Linked DNA regions of Homo sapiens: region 2 is linked to region 1. A link means that fine-mapping ties the variant in region 1 to the expression of a gene that starts in the linked region. Tissue or cell type: whole blood. Region 1 holds a variant in brackets; the other region holds the start of a gene. All regions are shown on one strand. Distances are from middle to middle.

The links. PIP is the estimated chance that this variant, and not a neighbour inherited with it, causes the effect.
Region 2: it holds the start of MLLT11, and the variant in region 1 is fine-mapped to the expression of MLLT11 in whole blood (TOPMed, PIP 0.91).

Annotation. Positions count from the first base shown.
Region 1 is chr1:150,982,770-150,990,903 of GRCh38, forward strand. ANXA9 (annexin A9) reads left to right here. Exons shown (of 14, transcript NM_003568.3): 3 at 321-411; 4 at 569-665; 5 at 1,206-1,300; 6 at 1,512-1,625; 7 at 1,817-1,907; 8 at 3,567-3,646; 9 at 3,833-3,892; 10 at 5,103-5,187; 11 at 5,322-5,417; 12 at 5,514-5,572. The coding sequence starts at 337. Among named protein-coding and RNA genes, the nearest start is that of ANXA9, 4.5 kb to the left of the region's middle. RefSeq lists an enhancer at 47-908. The variant G/A (reference allele first, on the strand shown) is at 3,413.
Region 2 is chr1:151,056,776-151,064,909 of GRCh38, forward strand. MLLT11 (MLLT11 transcription factor 7 cofactor) reads left to right here and starts at 3,622. Exons shown (of 2, transcript NM_006818.4): 1 at 3,622-3,778. It overlaps CDC42SE1 (CDC42 small effector 1), which reads right to left and starts at 2,847. Exons shown (of 5, transcript NM_020239.4): 1 at 2,704-2,847. RefSeq lists silencers at 1,185-1,244, 1,255-1,304 and an enhancer at 3,168-3,759.

The sequences.
Region 1 (8,134 bases):
GCATCTACCGCGGACCAAGGCCTGAGGAGCTTTGGTGCTGACCCTGGCATCAGGGAGGGTTGGCGCCTGGTCCAGGAGCATTCCGCATCAATCCCCACTTCCTAAAGGAGTGGGGAGAGGTGGGGAAGGTGGGGGCTCCCCTCTTACCTCACCATTTCAGCTCCATTTCTGGCTCCAAGCCTAAGCAGGTTGATCTTTTTTTCTGCAGCAAGGAAAGGAACAGGTGACTGGAACCCAGGGTCCAGGGTCTCGGGGGGGTCATAAGGAGTCCCTGAAGGGCCAGGAAATTCAGCTCTGTGGGCTCCTGTTTCCTTCCCCAGGGCAACCAGTAGCACCATGTCTGTGACTGGCGGGAAGATGGCACCGTCCCTCACCCAGGAGATCCTCAGCCACCTGGGCCTGGCCAGCAAGGTAGGGGCTGTTGGGATTTTAGAGATCACTTTTAGTATCTCAGCTCGGGCTGTGAGAGGATGGGAGGCAGGAAAGTGGAGGACAGGCCCTGAGGTTATGCTGAGGAGGTGTAGGCAGCCTGGCCCTGGCCCTTGCCAACTACCCTGTGCTCCCACAGACTGCAGCGTGGGGGACCCTGGGCACCCTCAGGACCTTCTTGAACTTCAGCGTGGACAAGGATGCGCAGAGGCTACTGAGGGCCATTACTGGCCAAGGTGAGCCCCTTTCCCCCGGCACTTGAGACTGCCTTTTAGAGCCAATCTGTAGACCAAGGAGGAGCCAGGAAGGAGGAACTAGTGATGTTGGAGAAATGTTTGTGGAATGCCTTCATTCTTGTATGTCAGGCGCCACAGTAGGTGTGTCAAACCCATTCTCACAACACCCCTGTGAGGCAAGGCTTATTATTTCCATTTTCCAGATGAGGAAACTGGGGCTCAGGGAGATTAAGAGGCTTGCCCAAGGTCACTCAGCTCATGACGGAGGTGGTATTCTCATCTAGGTCAGCCGATCCCCCCAAGTCGTATTTTTTTTTAACCACCACACCAGGCCACCTTTGCCTTGGTCTGGGTCAGATTTGCATGCTGTTTTGACATTTTATTTGCAACTTCTTTTGAGATAAAATGGAAGTGGGGGTGATATAGCCCCTGCTCCTTTCCTTCCCAGCCCTCTCCTGGAGCGCCTTCCCTCCTCCAAGGAGTAGGAACATCCCACTATGTAAAGACCCTGCTCACAGCACAGCCCTCATCTCGGTTCAGGCGTGGACCGCAGTGCCATTGTGGACGTGCTGACCAACCGGAGCAGAGAGCAAAGGCAGCTCATCTCACGAAACTTCCAGGAGCGCACCCAACAGGTGAGGCCATGCTGACCTCCCACAGCAGTGGACTGGGGTGAGAAACCCCCTGGAGGACTCGAGAGACAGCAACAGCCGCTGAGGCCAGCCCCTGCTTCCTGGCTAAACAGGGCCTGAGATGAAAACCAGCCAAATCTTCCCAAACCTCCCCACACTTCTGGGGCCCTTCCCCTCACCCCCGTCCCTCTGCTGTGAGGACCATTTATTGTAGGACCTGATGAAGTCTCTACAGGCAGCACTTTCCGGCAACCTGGAGAGGATTGTGATGGCTCTGCTGCAGCCCACAGCCCAGTTTGACGCCCAGGAATTGAGGACAGCTCTGAAGGTAGCAGGAGGGGAGACTTGCTGGGGTGTCTGGGGAAGGGAGAAGGCTGTCAGCCTTGCTTTTGCAAGACGAGAGTCCCCCTCTCGTCGTCCCATATTGTTTCTTAGAAGGAGAAGCAGCCAGCGTCTGCCCCTCTGTCTGCCATCCTAATGACACGGCCAGTCTGAGAGTAGACTCCCAATTTCTTGTAGGCCTCAGATTCTGCTGTGGACGTGGCCATTGAAATTCTTGCCACTCGAACCCCACCCCAGCTGCAGGAGTGCCTGGCAGTCTACAAACACAGTAAGAATATAGAGGGAGGGGTCCCAGATGCTGGAGAAGGGGCTGTAGGACAGGCCACTCCTCTCCTGTACTCCCCATAGGTGAGCTATCTGGCAACCTGGCTGCCTAAGTTCTATTCCCTTGGGGTCTTTCCTCTTGCCCCCACCAGTGCCTCAGTCTCTCAGGGGAGAGACCCAGATGTGATCATTAAAAAAAGAGAAGCAGGCCAGGTACGGTGACTCATGCCTGTCACCCCAACACTTTGGGAGGCTGAGGTGGGCAGGTCACTTGAGCCCAGGAGTTCAAGACCAGTCACAGGCAATAAAGGAAAACCTCATCTGTGCTAAAAATTCAAAAAAACCAGCTGGTCATGGTGGTGTGCGCCTGTGGTCCCAGCTACTCAGGAGTTTGAGGTGGGAGGATCACCCCAGCTTGGGAAGTTGAGGCTGCAGTGAGCTGAGATCGTGCCACTGCCACTGCACACCAGCCTGGGTGACAGGAGTGAGAGCATGTCTCTCTCTCTCTCTCTCTCTCTCACACACACACACACACACACACACACACAAATAAAGAGAGAGAAGCAATGATTAACCATCTTAATCTGGAGCTCCAAGGCAGATTCCAAAGTGACAGTCCCAAAGGTACTCATGTCACCTTCCCAGCCCCTTGCCATCCCTGCCATCACACCACATTCCAAGCTGAACCCAGCCATGCTGCAGCCTGAGGAAAAGGTGGGAATCTGCCCTCTGAGTCATGGGTGTCACCTTTCATGTCCCTGATGGCTGGCCTTGCTTGGCTACAAGTGTCTCACCCACTAATTTGTGGCTTTTTCCCATCCTCATCTTACCACCCCTTCCCCCCACCCCTACCTCTTTTTCTTGCTTTCCCCAATTTTCCTTTGATGTCTAATCTTGGCCTATGTTCTTCTTTTGAGACAAGGTCTTGCCCTGTAGCCTAGGCTGTGCAGTGATGTCATCATGGCTCACTGCAGCCTTGACCCTTCTGGGCTCAATCAGTCCTCCCACCTCAGCCTCCTAAGTAGCTGGGACTACAGGTGTGCCACCACCATGCCCAGCTAAATTTTGTATTTTTTGTAGAGATGGGGTTTCGCTGTGTTGTCCAGGCTGGTCTCGAACTTCTGGGCTCAAGCCATCTCCTGCCTCAGCCTCTGAAAGTGCTGGGATTACAAGCATGAGCCACCGCCCTGGCCGTGGCCTATGTTCTTAATCCCTCTCCTACCTTCCTTCCTTCTTGCATCTGTTTCCCTTTTCTCTTTCTTTTTCTCCCTTTCCTGCTCTTTTCCTTCCTCATATCCCACCTCTCATATCATTTTTCCTTACCTCCAATGAGGGTGCCAGGTCCTAACCATCTTGTGTTATAATACGGGTTTCCCTAGCTCTTCTTCACTGCCTGGCCCCAACTCTAATAATGGTTGCCTCCTGCCCAGCAGGTTGGTGCTTGGTGATGAAGCCACTGCACACCTCACAACTTAGAGATGTTTTTAGAGTGGCCGTGATGGTACTTGT[G/A]CCTTACATCCTGGGAATTAGCAGCCATCAAGCTACTCCAAGCAGGGGCTAGCAGGGCTGGCAGGGTATAGCGGGTCAGGCATTTGGCAGGTCCTGGGGATATCTACACTAGGAAAACTCAGGAGGATTCAGAGAGCTCCTCACCCCACCCCAGATTTCCAGGTGGAGGCTGTGGATGACATCACATCTGAGACCAGTGGCATCTTGCAGGACCTGCTGTTGGCCCTGGCCAAGGTGAGGAGGACTGACCTGCAAGGAAGGGAGTCACGTTCACCAGGCAAGGAGACACGCTGGAGCAGGGAGCATTGCTGTCCTGTAATGGACAAGAGAGGGCTTTAGGGGAGACCAGCCTTCGCTTGTTGGTCTGAAGATAAAAAGGTGCCCTTCAAAGAGCCCTCTAAGAACAGTTTCTCCTCCTAGGGGGGCCGTGACAGCTACTCTGGAATCATTGACTATAATCTGGCAGAACAAGATGTCCAGGTGAGCAGGGGGTTTAGGAGTGTGCACAGCCGCCATGCACATAAGATGCCTTCCTCCACCATATCTTAGAGCCGGTGACCTACGTGCCCATTTTTCCCGCAAACCCATCCCTGCCTTGGAGAGGGAGTTCTCAGTTATGTGGTAGGGGCAGGAGGTGTCAGGTAGCGTCATAGCTGAAGCCTTTTCACTCATCTAGCCTCTGACTCCTGAGCTCATCAACTGACATATTCTCCTCTCATGAGCGTTTGGGGGCAGAAAGCCTCCTCAGACCTTTTGGGGATTATTTAATCCTCGGGTACCAGGATTTTTCCAAATCAGTGAATAGAGCTGTGAGGCTGTAAGGGCAGAGCCCTCTCTTAGCCCTATTTCTTTCTTAAAAAATAAAAAACATAAGATAAAAAAACATAAATAAAAACAACTAGTAGGCCAGGCATGGTGGCTTATACCTGTAATCCCAGCACTTTGGGAGGCTGAAACAAGAGGATCACTTGAGCCCAGGAGTCCAAGACCAGCCTAGGCAACATAGTGAGACTCTATCTCCACAAAATATTTTTAAAAATTAGCTGCACCTGTAGTTCCAGCTAGCTAGGAGGCTGAGGTGGGAGGATCGCTTGAGCCTGGGAAGTTGAGGCTGAGGTAAGCCCTGGTCATGCCACTGCACTCCAGCCTGGGTGACAGAGAGAGACCCCATCTCTCTCGCTCTCTCTCTCTCTCTCTCTCACACACACACACACACACACACGCACACACACAAACCTAGTTTACGGGTTAAAATAAACTTTCTGGCTGGTCGTGGTGGCTCACACCTATAATCCCAACAATTTGGGAGGCCGAGACAGGTGGATCACTTGAGGTCAGGAGTTCGAAACCAGCCTAGCCAACATGGTGAAACCCCGTCTCTACTAAAAATACAAAAATTAGCCAGGCATGATGGTGAGTGCCTGTAATCCCAGCTACTCAGGAGGCTGAGCCTGGAGAATCACTTGAACCTGGGAGGCAGAGGTTGTGGTGAGCTGGGATCACACCATTGCACTCCAGCCTGGGTGACAGAATGAGAGTCCTTCTCAAAAAAAAAAAAAAAAATCCTTTTCCACCCTCAATCCCATTTCCATCATGATGATGATAGATTCTGGAACGTCATACCCATGGCTCCCTAGGCCCCAACCAATGATCCTGATTGACTCCTCCCTGACTCATTCCTCCCTCCTAGGCACTGCAGCGGGCAGAAGGACCTAGCAGAGAGGAAACATGGGTCCCAGTCTTCACCCAGCGAAATCCTGAACACCTCATCCGAGGTACACACAAGCCTTCTTGTCCCCCTAGCTTGCTCTAATGATCAGTTTGGGCTGAGGAAGGTGGGGAGGGCCCATCCTTTCCAGAGATAATTAATCCCCCATCCATCTTTCTAACTGCCTCCTACACACACAAGTGTTTGATCAGTACCAGCGGAGCACTGGGCAAGAGCTGGAGGAGGCTGTCCAGAACCGTTTCCATGGAGATGCTCAGGTGGCTCTGCTCGGCCTAGGTAGGGGCCTGCTCAGGATTTGTGAAGTAAGTCTCTCTTGGGATGGGAGATTGTGGTCCTAGTTGTGAACCTCCATCCTTCCATCTTTGTTTCCAGCTTCGGTGATCAAGAACACACCGCTGTACTTTGCTGACAAACTTCATCAAGCCCTCCAGGTGAGAGGGGCACTCCTTTCCCTCCCCAGAACAGAAACTGGGGAGGAGAGAGGAAGTCTCAGCTTGCTGCTTATGTAACCATCCTATATACACCGTCTAAACCTCAAGCCGCTCTCCTTCCCAGGGCTTACACACCAGGGCTTACACAGGGGTGGAGGAATGAGCTGTGGTGAGAACTAACTTAGTTGGCTCCCAGGGGCCCTGAAACTAACATTTTGGCCTTGTTAATGTCTAGGTGGCCAAATAGAGATATGAATCTGCTCTGTAAGACAGTGCCTTGTGCAGGCTTAGTTGTTGCCAGAGTGATGGTGATAACACTAGCAAGAATAATGACAAGGGCTGGCATTTTGCAGGTGCTGATTGTGTGCCACAGCCTATCCTGAGCAGGGCACACATATTTCAATTAATCCTCACAACCATATCCATCCGTATCTTATAGATGAAAAAACTGAAGCCCAGAGAAGTTAAGTACCTTGCTTGAGGTCACGTAGCTAGTAAGTTATACAGTCTCCCTACACAACACTTCACGATGTAAGATATTGACCATCCTTGTCAGCTATACGATAAGTGCTCTTAGCACCCAAGGCCCCCTTTCTCCACGCTGGTCAGATTTTGTTCCACATTATCCATACTTTTTTTTTTTTTTTTGAGATGGAGTTTCACTCTTGTTGCCCAGGCTGGAGGCTGGAGTGCAGTGGCACAATCTCGGCTCATGGCAACCTCCGCCTCCTGGATTCAAGCGATTTTCCTGCCTCAGCCTCCCAAATAGCTGGGATTACAGGCGCCCGCCACCACATTATCCTAATTTTTTGTATTTTTAGCAGATGCGGTTTCACCATGTTGGTCAGGCTGGTCTCAAACTCCTGACCTCAGGTCATCAACCTGTCTCGGCCTCCCGAAGTGCTAGGATTACAGGCGTGAGCCACTGCGCCCAGCCCATATTATCCGTACTTAAACTGCTGACTGTGGCTTGAGTGCTTCCACCAATAGAATCCAGTTATTCTGTTGATTGAATTAGGTCTCCTATTAGTAGAACTGTCCCCCAAAATCTATAAATAAAAAGTTCAGGAAGGGCGCAGTGGCTCACGCCTATAATCCCAGCACTTTGGGAGGCCAAGGTGGATGGATCACTTGAGGTCAGGAGTTCGAGACCAGCCTGGCCAACGTGGTGAAACCCTGTCTCTACTAAAAATACAAAAATTAGCCAGGCATGGTGGCAGGCACCTGTAATTCCAGCTACTTGGGAGTCTGAGGCAGGAGAATTGCTTGAACCTGGGAGGCGGAGGTTGTAGTGAACCAAGATCACGCCACTGCACTCCAGCCTGGGTGACACAGTCAGACTAAAAAAGTAGTTATCATTTTGGCAGATGGAATAGCTTTCTGTAGACTGGTTGAGAAGCCATCATGCCATGTTGATGATTGCCCAAAAGTTAGTAAATATAAGCAATTGTTCTGTCATCTAGAGATTTCTATCTTGACAGTAGATTATTATACTTGCCCAATAAAGCCTGTATGATTATAATGAGTCAACACTAAGATTCATTTGAAGAGTTGTACTTATCTGTCCAAATTCCTGTCATAAATACAAACTATCCCAGCAGTAGATGATTTTGTAGTGTATTTGGATTACAAGACCCACACTCTTGAGTGTAGATAAAAGATTTATCTTAGAAGTAGTAGTCAGGGGCCAAGCATGGTGGCTCACACCTGTAATCCTAGCACTTTGGGAAGCTAAGGTGGGAGGATCGCTTGAGGTCAGGAGTTCAAGACCAACTTAGGCGACATAGCAAGAACTCGTCTCTACAAAAATAAGAAGAAAATTTGCCAGGCATGGTGGCACCTGCCTCTAGTCCCAACTACTCAGGAGGATGTGGTGGGAGGATTGCTTGAGCCCATGAATTAGAAGTTACAGTGAGCTGTGATTACTCCACTGCACTTCAGCCTGGGTAACAGAGCAAGACCCTGTCTCAAAAAAAGAAAAAAAGAAGTGGTAGTCAGAAAATAACATAGGCCCATTTTTCTGAAAAAAAAAATTTTTTTTTTGAGATAGAGTCTGGCTCTGTTGCCTAGGCTGGAGTGCAGTGGCGTGATCTCAGCTCACTGCAGCCTTCACCTTCTGGGTTCAAGTGATTCTCTGGCCTCTGTGTCTTAAGTAGCTGGGATTACAGGCGTAGGCCACCATATCTGGCTAATTCTGAATTGTTTCTAAAAAGGAAAAACTCGGGCTGGGCGCTGTGGCGCATGCCTGTAATCCCAGGACTTTGGTAGGCTGAGGCGGGTGGATTATTTGAGGCCAGGAGTTCAAGACCAGCCTGGCCAACATGGTGAAACCCCATCTCTACTAAAAATACAAAAATTAGCCAGGGGGTAGTGGTGAGCGCCTGTAATCTCAGCTACTTGGGAGGCTGAAGCAGGAGAATCTCGAGCCTGGGAAGCAGAGGTTGCGGTCAGCCGAGGTGACGCCACTGCGCTCCAGTCTGGGTGACAAAGTGAGACCTGCCTCAAAAAAAATAAATAAACAGGCCAGGCGCGGTGGCTCATGCCTGTAATCTCAGCACTTTG
Region 2 (8,134 bases), 74 kb after region 1:
GTACAGATCATCTGTGTACAGGTTGTGGGTACATGTGCCAGGTATCTTCTGTCCCATGAGGAATATTTTCCCCACCGTCCACATGTCCTATCTGCCACTCTGCTCTGCCTCACACCCTATAGGGCCCAGGCTCCCCTCCAGCTGTGACCTGTTCTCCCCTCCCTCCTCACCAATTCTATCCTCAAGCTTCATCAGTGAACCAGACATAAGGAACTTTCCAATAGTACTAGTGTCCAAGGAAGAACTTCCTCCCTTCTCACTACTGCCAGCCAGGGTAGGACACATCTGGGTTTCTTCTTAGACTCACTTGCATTTCCCCAGTCCTATAGTACAGACAACCTCAAAGATTCCAAAAAGGGCAGTTTCATAAATATGACACTTTAACATGAACAGGAATCTCCCTTTCTTGCAGGCCGGGAACCCTGATGCTTTGGCACCCTAGACTGATTTAAAAACAAGAGATAGGCCGGGCGTGGTGGCTCACGCCTGTAATCCCAGCACTTTGGGAGGCCAAGGTGGGCGGATCACCTGAGGTCAGGAGTTCCAGACCAGCCTGGCCAACATGGTGAAACCCCATCTCTGCTAAAAATACAAAAGATTAGCTGGGCGTGGTGGCGGATGCCTGTAATCCCAGCTACTTGGGAGGCTGAGGCAGGAGAATCGCTTGAACCGGAGATTGCAGTGAGCCGAGATCGCCACTGCACTCCAGCCTGGGCAACAAGAGCGAAACTCCGCCTCAAAAAAAACACACACAAAAAAACGAGATAGCAGGGTGTGGTAGCATGTGCCTGTCATCCCAGCTACTGGGGAGGCTGAGGCAGGAGGATCACTTGAGCCCAAGAGTTGCGGCTACAGTGAGCCATGTTTGCACCCCTGCACTCCAGCCTGGGTGACAGGACAAGACCCTGTCTCAAATACAAAACACACACACACACACACACACACACACACACACACACACACAGAGGTTTTTTTTTTTTTTAACAGCCTTGAGATGAGATCACACAAACACTCAAATGTAGCTTCTAGGGGAGGGGAGAACCCAGGAGGCTGGGCTTTCTCTTCTCTTCTCACCACTGGAAGGGAGGAGTAACCAGAAGGAGCGGAAGCTAAAACACGCTGTCCAGAGAGGGGAGCTGTGGTCAGTGGGACGTCAGTGAGTCAGTCATAGGGTTTGTCCTGATGGTGGTGGTGGCAGGTGGTAAGGGTTGGGGAAAAATGAAGAATTAGAGGAAACCCCCAACACCAGCAGGCAGGCTGTACTGTGACTGGACTCTCCCTCAACATCCCCCACTCTGCTCAAAGCTGAGGGACAGAGGTGGATAGTGCTGGGAGGGAAGAGAAGAGAGGGGGAGGAGAAGGAGAGAGGGAAAGGGGCAGTGGAGAGAACAAGGCCATTTCTGTTTCTTTTCCAGGGACCTGACCAGAGCTGGGTGGAGGGAAAGCGTGTGTGTGGGACTTGGCATGAAATGACCAATGATGACGAGAAGTGACCAGGAAATTCCATTCCCTAGGACATTAGGGTCTCTGAAACTTGAGGGTGGGGTCAGAGTGTGAAGAAGACAGGTCAGGGTGAATGTGATGGTAGCGCAGGGCAGTGGGGGATGGGAACAAAGCCAGAAAAGGAAGTAAGAGCCACTGGCGGCCACTCTTCTTTAAAGCAGCCAGAAGAGAGTGGGTTGAGGAAAAATGAAGTCCTGAGCTGGTCAGCCCAGGCGGAAGAGCCACCCGAATCCAACCCCACAGTGAATAGGGAAGGGGCTGAGAAAACAACAGGAGGGATGAGGATTAGACCTCATAAGGCCACGTCCTGAGAGCCAAGTGGTGCTCAGAACTCGACCTCTCTGAGTTCCAAATGGCAAGAGTGAAATATGGAACCGGGAAAGCCACCCCCCGCCCCCACCAAGATCATACTAGGACTTGAGGGTCTCAGAGCTGTTGGGAGGTGAGCAGAAGGGATGGGAAAGAGGTGCCAGGGAGGAAGGATGTACAGGCTAGTTCTCTGGTCCTGTTCGGGCCCCAAACCGGTTCTCCCGGTCCCACCGCCTCTGGCCCTAAGGCCTCCAACCCGCGGCCTGACAAGCCCTCACATGAAGCAGCTGGAGAGAAAGAAAGAATCGAGAGAATGGCATGGGCAATTCTGGCTAGAAGCCCGGGGCAGCAGCTGGTCCCTGTGTGGAGACCCCGAGACATGGAGGGCTGCTGAGGGACTCTGGAGAAGCGGTGTGGACTCCATATTTCAGCCAAGTGACAGGCCCAACACCAACCTTCCCTTCCCCAGGAAAGGTCTTCTGGGGGCTTAAGAGGAAAGAGGGCTAGGCCCTAAGCCTCCCCTCCCCAAATATATTCAATCACACAGATTCCGTATCTGTCTCCCCCCACTACACAACTCTACCTAGAAGTTCTCTGCTGTTCTCAACCCTTAACCGGACTGGGACCTCTCTGGGAATCTTTCGGACCCTCTCCCTCCCACCTCCCCCAACATTCCAGTTCCTTCTTTTCCTTCTACTCTTCAGCGGCCTCAGCCTGCGCACCCCAGGAGCGTGGATGACTACGGCCACCCCGGGCGCGCACCCCTTTCCCACCACCCCAGCATCTCTGCAGCCCAGGACACCCGCCTCCCCCACACCCCGCATCCGGTGTGTCTCCGCCTGGCCCGGCCGGCGCGGCAGGCGGGCCAGGGGACCAACTGCACGGCCTCACCTGCTCTTCTCCACCATCCAGACGTTCAGCTACAGCTGGTGGGGGTGAGGGACTCTGCTCCGTGGCCGCCAGTGTGGGCTTCCCGGGCTAGCTCTGCGGCGAGGTGGGGGAGCCGAGTACGAGCCGGCAGAGGTGGGGCCGGCTGAGGGCGGAAGCGGCGGCGACGCGATTACGAAACCCGTCCGGCTCGGAGCCCGGCGCACTGCTCCCCTCTGGACTGCGGAGGCACTGCACTGCGCGGGACGTGGGAGGGTGCCTCTGCAGCCCCTCAAGGCCGCCGCCCCTGCGGGGAGAACTGGAGAATGCGGACACCTAGATGAGGCCCTGGCACCCAAGCTGGGGCCCCCGGAATCTCACGTTCCCTTTACTCGCCAGGCATTTCGGGGCAAAACGAAGCGGAGCCCCCCAAACCCCCAGACCTAACCAAGTTCAGAGATTCGCAGAAGCACGCCCCCCACCCCAAATTTATTGTGCTCTACCCAAAATGGAATAGGACTAGGTTTATTTACCCATTGTGAGGGTAGAGAGGCGAGTCTGGAGGAGCAGGGATTGGGAGAAGGGGTGGAAAAATACTCTGATTCTTAAAAATACTTTGTAACCTAAAGTCCTTAAATTGTGGAAGAAAGGAATACTCCTCCTTTCCATTGTAGTCTAGAGTTAAGATTTCAAATCCATAAATTAGAGGACCTAAAATTAGAGGGCAATTAACTGCTCATTCATTGGGCCCCCAGTCAGCACGGGGGTGCTGGAAGAGATCGGGAATAATAGCGCAGACCAATGAGCCTAGGGAGATGCTTTCATCGTCTCTCCTTCCCTCAAGTGTTCTGGAACCTATCATTTGAATTAGCCGAGTCAGGCAGGAGGGGGCGGGGAATCCTTCCGCCCTTCTTAGGAGGGGCTGCATTGCAGGGGGAGAGTGAACTGACAGACTCAGTCACTGAAGAGGGAAAAGGAGTGAGAAGACAAAGCCGTCAAAGCCCCAACAGCTTTGTATTTCTCCAGCCCGGCGCAGACCCCGGAGCTCCCGAGGCACTCCCTCCATCTTTGGAACACGCCAGTAATTGATTGATAACAGGTAAACCAAACTGAGGGAGGGGGCAGGGGGCTGCAAAGATAGAAGAGCGGCTGCTTATGGTTAGATTGAAAGACCCCACATGAGGTGGGGGACAGCTGAAGAGGAGAGAAGGGGGCGCTATGAACAATGGGTAGTTATTTCTTCACAGCATCCATGCCTTGTTACCTTATACAGACCATTAATCTCTAACAATTTACTTGTAGTTATTTCTCAGCACCTACCTCATTTCAAGTATCCTTTTCTGTAATTTATTGTCCTGTGTATTTAATATCTTCAGTCTACTTATCTTCCTTTTCAAACCATAATTTGTTTTACCAGCTGTTTAATTTTTAGTCCTACTGTATCTCTCTGTCCTCTACTTCCCTATACTTGCAATTTTTTTCTGTAGTGTTCTATGTTTCTCTGTAGGAGGGAGTTTGGGAGGGGGTTATATGGGATAATGTTGGGTGTAATCCTGACCTTTCTTTGGATAATCTCTTTCATTCCACCTCGAATCTTTGCTCCAAAGAAAGAGGCAGCCTAGGGTAGGAAAGGTGGGGGCCTCTGTGTTGGAGAACTGCCTGATTCCATAGTGAAATCAGTATAGCCCACAGGAGCTAGGTATGGGGACAGATTCTGGAAAAGAATGATTTGCAGCTCAGTGGAATTGGTGGAGGAATGCTAGTAGGAAAATCCAAGCTCTGACTGAGGCACACATTATGAGATGTCAGAGAGGTTCTGCTCCCCTCTACCACCACCACCACCTTGTCCTTCCCCCTTCCCCATGGTGGCAGCATGACACAGCAAGGCCCTGTTGAGTAGGCCTTGGATGCCCACAAAGGGTCTGGACAAAGGATATTTGGGCGTGTCTGTGTGGCTCCGAGAGTGTATCTTTCTAATCTATACATTTGCTAATCATGTATCTCTAAGAACAGAGTGATAATTAGATATTGCCTTTGCCTAAAATACCCGGATAATTTAAAGTGAAGGATAGTGGGAAGCATTTATTGAACATATATTGTGGTACAAGGCACTGTCAAAACCCTTTAAGTAAATGATACCATTTAAGATAATGAAAGATGTAAAGATAGATGAAGTAGGGCTGGAGAGCATTTGTGGAGGGGAAGGGGAAGCTAGCCAAAAAAGGATCTTTTGCGAAATTTGGAGTATTTGATAATTAAATCCATACTATATTAAATCAAAAATGTCATTACTACTTACATTAGTGAATAGCATTTTAACTTCAATTTTCTGTGTAGTATTACTTTATGTTCTTGACTTGATTTTAATGCCACGTATGTTTGCATGCATGTCTTTCTTGAATGTATTTGGTACCCTGTGTACATGTCTCTGGGTCAATGACATAGAGATTTTAGGCCTTTTGAGTTAATATTTCATAAAATTTGCTTTAGCTTTTTAAATTGCAAGATAGCTCTACCAAACACTCAGGGACTGTTTGAGCAGTTTTTTATACATACTCTGGTTGTAAGAAAAGGAGTCAGTTTGTCGAAGAGCTTTTTTTTTTTTCTCAGATTCTAGCTTGCTCTACTGCCCTTTGCTTTTCCCCATTCAGATCACAATTACAGGAACAATCACCTAAACCACGGAAAATCTATTCTTCAGCAACTAAAAATTCTTTTAAGTTTTGGGAATACTGGTATAGGGTTATATAAAGCTGTTGGCAACTATCCATGTACAACACAAAAAGGGATCAGATTGGGAATTATGAGATCTGGATTCTATACAAACTGGCTGGAAGTCTTCCCAAGTCATTAATTTCTAAGATGTCTTCTAGTTTTAAAATTCTATGATTTTTTCCCCCCATGATTCTATTTTTTTTTTTTTTTTAAGATGGAGTCTCGCTCTGTTGCCCAGGCTGGAGTGCAGTGGTGCAATCTTGGCTCACTGCAACCTCCACCTCCCCAGTTCAAGCGATTCTCCTGCCTCAGCCTCCCGAGTAGCTGGGATTATAGGCGCCTGCCACCACACCTGGCTAATTTTTGTATTTTTAGTAAAGACGGGGTTTCACTATCTTGGCCAGGCTGGTCTCGAATTCCTGACCTTGTGATCCACCTGCCTCGGCCTCCCAAAGTGCTGAGATTACAGGCGTGTGCCACCGCGCCTGGCCCCATGATTCTATTTTTTAAAGAGCCTATAATGTGGCCTGCATTATACTAAGCTCATTCTGGAGAAGACTTGTCAGGTAGGATAGAGAAAAGAACCCAGCTAGCTGTGAAAATAACTGGTAACAGTAAGAATCCCTGTAGCCACAAGTCCATAACAGTATTGACTCCTAGGTATGCTTCTTAGAATCTCTATAGTCCCAGATTTAAGCAGTGGGTGGTTGGTTAATGGATACAACCATTTTTTGTAGCTCTCTTTCTGCACACGTCTCTGCAAAGTACTATGGAGATTATCAGAGTTGAGTATCATAGGATGATGACCTCACCTTTCCAACATGCTCCCCGACCCTGCTGCAATCCCGGCATCACCCTCCTTCTAAGCAGCTTCTCTGCTGAGTAATGCTCAGTTCCCAGGGTTTATTTTGGAACTTAAACTAAGAAAAAGAACAACTCAGAATTCACTTTCAACATTAAAAACATCCTAGCCTACCCACTCACCATTCCTGAAGCCCCCACACTCTCACACATCACTGTGTTCTAGATTAACACTTTCTTTTTCTGCCTTAGTACAGTCATTTCACATTATACTGGAGCATTTTGGAACCTATTTAAGGCCATTATTTAGGAGTCTCTGGCCTGGTGAGACCCAATAGGGTGTGTTGGAGAAAGGCCTTTTGAAACTTGGGGTTCTGTTTTTGGAGGTGATAGAATGTTCTTTCTGCTCCTTTGGGAACATTTCAACTAATGCTTCTTTTTTTAATTTTTATTTATTTATTATTATTATTATTGAGACGGAGTCTTGCTCTTTCGCCCAGGCTGGAGTGCAGTGGCGCTATCTCAGCTCACCGCAAGCTCCGCCTCCCAGGTTCGCGCCATTCTCCTGCCTCAGCCTCCCAAGTAGCTGGGACTACAGGCGCCCACCACCGCGCCCGGCTTAATATTTGTACTTTTAGTAGAGACGGGGTTTCACCGTGTTAGCCAGGATGGTCTCGATCTCCTGACCTCGTGATCCACCCGCCTCGGCCTCCCAAAGTGCTGGGATTACAGGCGTAAGCCACCACGCCCGACCACAACTAATGCTTCTTGACCCTTGGCTAGTAAGTAGCAGGGTGGAGGCTGTAGGCAGCTCTAATAGTCCTAAAATATCAGGCAGGGCTTGGGTAGAATGAGTAGAGAAAGTGATAGATCCATTAACGCATGGAAGAGTATCTGATTCTGTTAAAATACCTTCTTCCAATCTGAACTTTACTTTAAATCCAAATGGATTTCCAATCCATTTGCTCTCATTATCATCAGTATACTCGAGCACTGGGATCAGAGAAAAGAGATCCCTGTTACAGCATAGGAAAGTTATTTATTTATTTATTTATTATTACTTTTTTTGAGATGGAGTTTCGCTCTTGTTGCCCAGGCTGGAGTGCAATGGCGAGATCTCGGCTCACTGCAACCTCCACCTCCCAGGTTCAAGCAATTTTCCTGCCTCAGCCTCCCAAATAACTGGGATTACAGGCATGCGCCACCTCGCCTGGCTAATTTTGTATTTTTAATAGAGACAGGATTTCACCATGTTGGTTGGGCTGGTCTTGAACTCCTCACCTCCTGATCTGCCTGCCTCGGCCTCCCAAAGTGCTGGGATTATAGGCGTAAGCCACTGCACCTGGCTAGGAAAGTTCTTTTAGCACCTAGGTTTTGTTCTGAAGGAGAGGTAGGCTAGAGAGAAATGGATTGTTAAGGCTTACCTGTGGGCTAATATAAGGGAATGGCAAGGTATTAATTAAATAGTGAGGGAAAGTTAATCAGCAGCCTTGAATGGCTTTGTGTACAAAGCCCACCACTTGTGTACAGAGAAAGTAGATTGGTCTTTACCCTTGGGGAAACTCCTAGGTATGGGGACAGATTCTGGAAAAGAATGATTATTTGCAATTCAGTGGAACTGGTGAGGGAATGCTAATAGGAAAATCCAAGCTCTGACTGAGGCACGCATGGTGAGATGCCAGAGAGCTTCTGCTCCCCTCTACCACCACCTTGTCCTCCCCCTTTCCCCATGGTGGCAGCATGACACAGCAAGGCCCTGTTGAGTAGGCCTTGGATGCCCACAAAGGGTCTGGACAAAGGATGTTTGGGCGTGTCTGTGTGGCTCCGAGAGAGTGTATCTTTCTAATCTACATATTTGCTAATCATGTATCTCTAAGAACAGAGTGATAATTAGATATTGCCTTTGCCTAAAATACCTGGATAATTTAAAATGAAGGAT